Regions from separate parts of the Homo sapiens genome. Here region 1 is linked to region 2. Evidence: fine-mapped expression QTL. A gene starts in region 2. The other region holds a variant in brackets. All regions are shown on one strand. Distances are between the middles of the regions. Region 1 overlaps LOC105371499 (a long non-coding RNA gene). Region 2 holds the start of PELP1 (proline, glutamate and leucine rich protein 1).

The links. PIP is the estimated chance that this variant, and not a neighbour inherited with it, causes the effect. A credible set is the group of variants that fine-mapping cannot tell apart.
Region 1: its variant is the best candidate, but not a certain one, in a credible set for the expression of PELP1 in whole blood (TOPMed, PIP 0.53).

The regions. Positions count from the first base shown.
Region 1 is chr17:4,655,142-4,658,048 of GRCh38, reverse strand. The region is part of intron 2 of LOC105371499 (a long non-coding RNA gene); the gene reads right to left. Among named protein-coding and RNA genes, the nearest start is that of ALOX15, 15 kb to the right of the region's middle. RefSeq lists an enhancer at 986-1,155. The variant C/T (reference allele first, on the strand shown) is at 1,559.
Region 2 is chr17:4,702,630-4,705,500 of GRCh38, reverse strand. It overlaps PELP1 (proline, glutamate and leucine rich protein 1), which reads left to right and starts at 1,364. Exons shown (of 17, transcript NM_014389.3): 1 at 1,364-1,638. The coding sequence starts at 1,390. PELP1-DT (PELP1 divergent transcript) reads right to left here and starts at 1,271. Exons shown (of 2, transcript NR_103482.1): 1 at 1,131-1,271; 2 at 1-302. It also overlaps the pseudogene RPS12P29.

The DNA of each region.
Region 1 (2,907 bases), 47 kb after region 2:
CTGCCTTTAGCTATTTTCAGCTGATTTTCTGTGTCCAATCTTACTCTATGTCTGTGCATTCAGAGGTAATTGGTGCCTTCAATTTTTGAGCTTTTTCAGGACTCTGTTGAAACTATGCCCCAAAGAGAAAGAAACCAATGACTAACAGAAATTCTTAAGTTTGCAGGATGGCAGATAAGAAAAGAAACCTCTTGCTGAAATGCTGAAACTTCCTCTGCTTATGAGATTAAAAAAACTGGCTGAAATCAGTTGGAATCCATATGGCCAGCTGGAGTCTATGCAGAATGAGCCCGCTGACCTCACAGCCTTTCCACTGCACCTTTCACACTAGCGCCCCCCAAATTTGCACCTATGACCCATGAAGAGGCATGAAGATACCACTGTGGAGGCCCGAGGACTTTCCAGACCTTTCCTTCCCTTCCACTAATCACCTATTCATCTCAGAATCCACCCGCTAAACATTTTTTTTTTTTTTTTGAGACGGGAGTCTCGCTCTGTCGCCCAGGCTGGAGTGCAGTGGTGCGATCTCCGCTCACTGCAAGCTCCGCCTGCCGGGTTCACGCCATTCTCCTGCGTCAGCCTCCCGAGTAGCTGGGAATACAGGCGTCTGCCACCACTAATTTTTTTGTATTTTTTAGTAGAGATGGGGTTTCACCGTGTTAGCCAGGATGGTCTCGATCTCATGACCTCGTGATCCGCCCGCCTTGGCCTCGGAAAGTGCTGGGATTACAGGCGTGAGCCACCGCGCCCGGCTTAAACATTTTCTAATGAAGACACTGCCTTAAAGCTGGCACAGAAAGATTTGAGCTGGACTTCTGTCTCCTTGTTGGTCGAACTGCGATAACAAGCTTTCGTTTTCTCAAAAACCTGGTGCCATAGTATCGGCTTCTAGTGCATGGGGCAGCGAGCCCTTTCACTCGGTAACACTGCGTCAGGAACTGGCATGCATTTTGGTGGTCTCACAACCCCAGCTCTGCCCCCCAGCACATCTCGTTGAGAGGTGACAGCGTGCCGGCAGCTCTCGGCGCCTCCTCGGCCTTGGCGCCCACTCTGGCCTTGCTTGAGAAGCCCTTCAGCCCGCCGCTGCACTGCGGGAGCCCCTTTCTGCGCTGGCCAAGGCCGGAGCCGGCACCCTCAGCTTGCGGGGAGGTGTGGAGGGAGAGGCGCGAGCGGGAACAGGGGCTGCGCGCGGTGCTTGCTGGCCAGCGTGAGTTCCGGGTGGGCGTGGGCTCGGCGGACCCCGCACTCGGAGCGGCTGGCCGGCGCCCCCGGCCCGGGCAGTGAGGGGCTTAGTACCTGGGCCAGCAGCTGCTGTGCTCAATTTCTCGCCGGGCCTTAGCTGCCTTCCCGTGGGGCAGGGCTCGGGACCTGCAGCCTGCCGTGCCTGAGCCTCCCCACCCCCGCTCCGTGGGCTCCTGTGCGGCCCGAGCCTCCCCGACGAGCGCTGCCCCCTGCTCCAAGGCGCCCAGTCCAATCGACCACCCAAGAGCTGAGGAGTGCGGGCGCATGGCGCGGGACTGGCAGGCAGCTCCACGTGCGGCCTGCTGCGGGACCCACC[C/T]ACCGGGTGGGTGAAGCCAGGTGGGCTCCTGAGTCTGGTGGGGACTTGGAGAACCTTTATGTCTAGCTAAGGGATTGTAAATACACCAATCGGCACTCTGTATCTAGCTCAAGGTTTGTAAACACACCAATCAGCACCCTGTGTCTAGCTCAGGGTTTGTGAATGCACCAATCCACTCTGTATCTAGCTACTCTGGTGGGGACTTGGAGAACCTTTGTGTCCACACTCCGTATCTAGCTAGTCTAGTGGGGACATAGAGAACTTTTGTGTCTAGCTCAGGGATTGTAAATGCACCAATCAGCACCCTGTGAAAACAGACCAATCAGCTCTCTGTAAAACGGACCAGTCAGCTCTCTGTAAGATGGACCAATCAGCAGTATGTGGGTGGGGCCAGATAAGAGAATAAAAGCAGGCTGCCCGAGGTCGCAGAAACAACAAGCTGGAACACGTGTGTGCGTGTTGTTTTTTTGTTTTGTTCTTTGTATTTTTTGTTTGTTTGTTTGTGCTGTTTGTAGTAAGTCTGGTCGCTGTTTGGGTCTACACTGCTTTTATGAGCTGTAACGCTCACCGCGAAGGTCTGCAGGTTCACTCCTGAACCGCGAGACCAGGAGGAACAACTCCTCCAGACGCGCTGCCTTAAGAGCTGTAACACCGCGAAGGTCTGTAACTTCACTCCTGAGCCAGCGAGACCACCAACCCACCAGAAGGAAAAAAACTCCCAACACGTCCAAACATTAGAAGGAACGAACTCCGGACACGCTGCCTTTAAGAATTGCTACACTCATTGCGAGGGTCCGCGGTTTCATGCTTGAAGTCGGTGAGCCCAAGAATCCACCAATTTTGGGCCCACCGTTCTCATCATTTTCTAATCTGTTAAGTCGGTTATCACCTGGCTGCTTCCAGGTGACAAAATCTGTTAAATCTCATCTGCAGTTGTAATCTCTCCTACTGTCTTTTTTCTTACGAGTTTATATATTTAAAACAATTTTTTTTTTGAGATGAAGTCTTACTCTGTTGCCCAGGCTGGAGTGCAATGGCGCAATCTTGGCTCACTGCAACCTCCGCCTCCCAGGTTCAAGCGATTCTCCTGCCTCAGCCTTTCCAGTAGCTGGGATTACAGGTGCGTGGCAGTACGCCCAGCTAATTTTTGTATTTTTAGTAGAGACGGGGTTTCACCATGTTGAGCAGGCTGGTCTGGAACTCCTGACCTCGGGTGATCTGCCTGCCTTGGCCTCCCAAGGGCTGGGATTATGGGCATGAGCCACGGCGTCTGGCTTTTTTTTTTTTTTTTTTTTTTTTTTTTTTTTTTTTGGAGACGGAGTTTTGCTCTTGTTGCCCAGGCTGGAGTG
Region 2 (2,871 bases):
GCATAGACTAATATTAGGAAAGTATACACGCTACTGGGGCAGGGCTTTGCGGGGGAGGAGCAGTTTTTCTTTTTACTTTATGCCTTTCTGTACTGTTTGAATTGGCTTTTGCAAGGCGCACGTCTTGTATCATTTCTGAAGTTGCAAATGTAGTTAAAAATGTCTGTGATTTCAAGTTACCTAGAGAGTTATTGATTCCTTCTCTTTCCCTGCCGCTGCCGAGTTGCGCGGAGGCGGAGGCTTGGGTACCTTCAAGATTCAGCTTCACTTGTAACCCACCGCCACGGCCGAGGAAGGCATTGCTGCTGGAGGGGTAATGGATGTTAATACTGCTTCACAAGAGGTGCTGAAGACCGCTCTCATCCACCATGACCTAGCACGTGGAATTCGCGAAGCTGCCAAAGCCTTAGACAAACGCCAAGCCCATCTTTGTGTGCTTGCATCCAACTATGATGAGCCTACTATGTATGTCAAGTTGGTGGAGGCCTTTGTGCTGAACACCAAATCAACCTAATTAAGGTTGATGACAACAAGAAACTAGGAGAATGGGTAGGGCTCTGTAAAAATCGACAGAGAGGGGAAACCCCGTAAAGTGGTTGGTTGCAGTTGTGTAGTAGTTAAGGACTATGGCAAGGAGTCTCAGGCCAAGGATGACATCGAAGAGTACTTGAAATGCAAGAAATGAAGAAATAAATCTTTGGCGCGCGTACACACACACACACGTTACTGATTCCTAGGCAGGGTGCGGTGGCTCATGCCTGTAATCTCAGCACTTTGGGAGGCCAAGGCGGGCGGAACACCTGAGGTCAGGAGTTCAAGACCATCCTGGCCAACATGGTGAAACCCCATCTCTACAAAAATACAAAAAAAATTAGCCGGGCGTGGTGGCGCGCGACTGTAATCCCATCTACTCGGGAGGCTGAGGCAGGGAAATCGCTTGAACCTGGAAGGTGGAGGTTGCGGTGAGCCGAGATCGCGCCACTGCACTCCAGCCTGGGCCACAGAGCGAGACTCCGTCTCAAAAAAAAAAAATGAGAGTTATTGATTCCTACAGCGAAGATGTCCCAAGACTCCGTCCGCTAAATGGAAATCGTTCCGACTTTGGCGCCTTTTGTCCGGACCACGTGTACCTTTAACATCACAGGACCGCCTCGGACACGCTCACAGGCAGCCTCATCCGCCATCACTCCGGGAACCGAGCACCCCGCTGCCTCGGCGCCCAGGCTGCTCTCTCCGCGCATGCTCCTTCCCAGCTTGAGCCCGCGAGTCCAGCCTGCCTTCACTCAGTGCGCAAGACCGCAGCCCCCTCCCCACGCCCCCTCCCCAGTAGGCGGCCGTCGCGGTGTGTTTGCGTCATCGCGCCACGCCACCACTGGAACCCGGGGGAAGATGGCGGCAGCCGTTCTGAGTGGGCCCTCTGCGGGCTCCGCGGCTGGGGTTCCTGGCGGGACCGGGGGTCTCTCGGCAGTGAGCTCGGGCCCGCGGCTCCGCCTGCTGCTGCTGGAGAGTGTTTCTGGTTTGCTGCAACCTCGAACGGGGTCTGCCGTTGCTCCGGTGCATCCCCCAAACCGCTCGGCCCCACATTTGCCCGGGCTCATGTGCCTATTGCGGCTGCATGGGTCGGTGGGCGGGGCCCAGGTGAGTCCGTGGCCCGCGTGCCCGCGGCCCTGTGGGGAGGATGGCGCGGCACCTGTGCGCCGGGATTACGGTGCAGTGCAAGTGCGATAGGGAGGTTGAAGGAAGGAGAGCTGCGGGCAGAAAGGGGATCCAGGTATCAGTCCGGACGGGATGCACGTATTTCTCCTTTATCGGCCATGAGTTTCTCCAGGGGAAAAATGGGCCTTATTTTTCTGTTGTTAGGCTATTGGTCGGCACACAGGAATCGATTAGGTTCCAGGCCCGGTCACTCACTAGTTGTATAATCTAAAAGTCTCTTTTTCCTCTGGCAATATCTGTTTCGGGGATTGTTTCGACTGACTGAATGACGCATTCAACAATAAACATTTACCGAGCTCTTATTGAGGGTCAGATACTGTACTAGGCGCTCCGGTTACAGACGTGGTGGCGATACACAAAATGCTGCGAAACAAGATGAGAATTGAATATCAGGGGTCTCTAACCTTATCTGAAGACTGGCAGAGATTTTTCCAAAGAAACCGGCGTTTAAGCTGAGACCCTAAGGATGAATAGGGGTTGGGTAGGGAAAAAATATGGGAGGGGCTGTTCAGTCAGAGGAGAGCTCATGTGGGAAGACCCTGTGGTAGGAAGGAACTGGAAAGAAGGGCATCGTTCCTGGGGCTCAGATGTGGAGGGGAAGAGAGTGGGTACAGATGAGACTGGTGAGATGGGTAGGCAGTGGTCGGGTCATGCAGAGCGTTTTAGGCCGGGTTAGGAGCCTTTGGACTTCTATAAGAATGGAATCTGATAACCATTCAGTTCTGCAAGCTAGACACTCAAGTAATTCTAAACTCTTCTTCATACACCTCCATAAGCAATCTGTCAAGTCCTGTTGATTTTATCCTTTGAGTAGTTTTCAGATCTGTCCACTCTTTTCCATCTTTCTCATTGCTCCCATTCTAGCTTGAACCCCCACCATCTTGTCCGGGTGAAGGCACTGATTCTAAGAAGGCATATTTCTAGCCCATAATAGCTGCTCCTTATAACAATCTCCTATCTTCCCTTCTCTCCCACTAAACCTCCCCCAAATTCTACCCATCCTTCAAGACCCATAAACACGAGATCTTCTGTGTCCACCCTTCATTCCTGGGACCTTCCTAGCTCTATGCTACCTTCCAGGAAGATGGTTGTCACAATTTGCTGGGTGGGTCAATAACCTTAGCCCCAGATTTATCACAGATAACCCTATCTGTT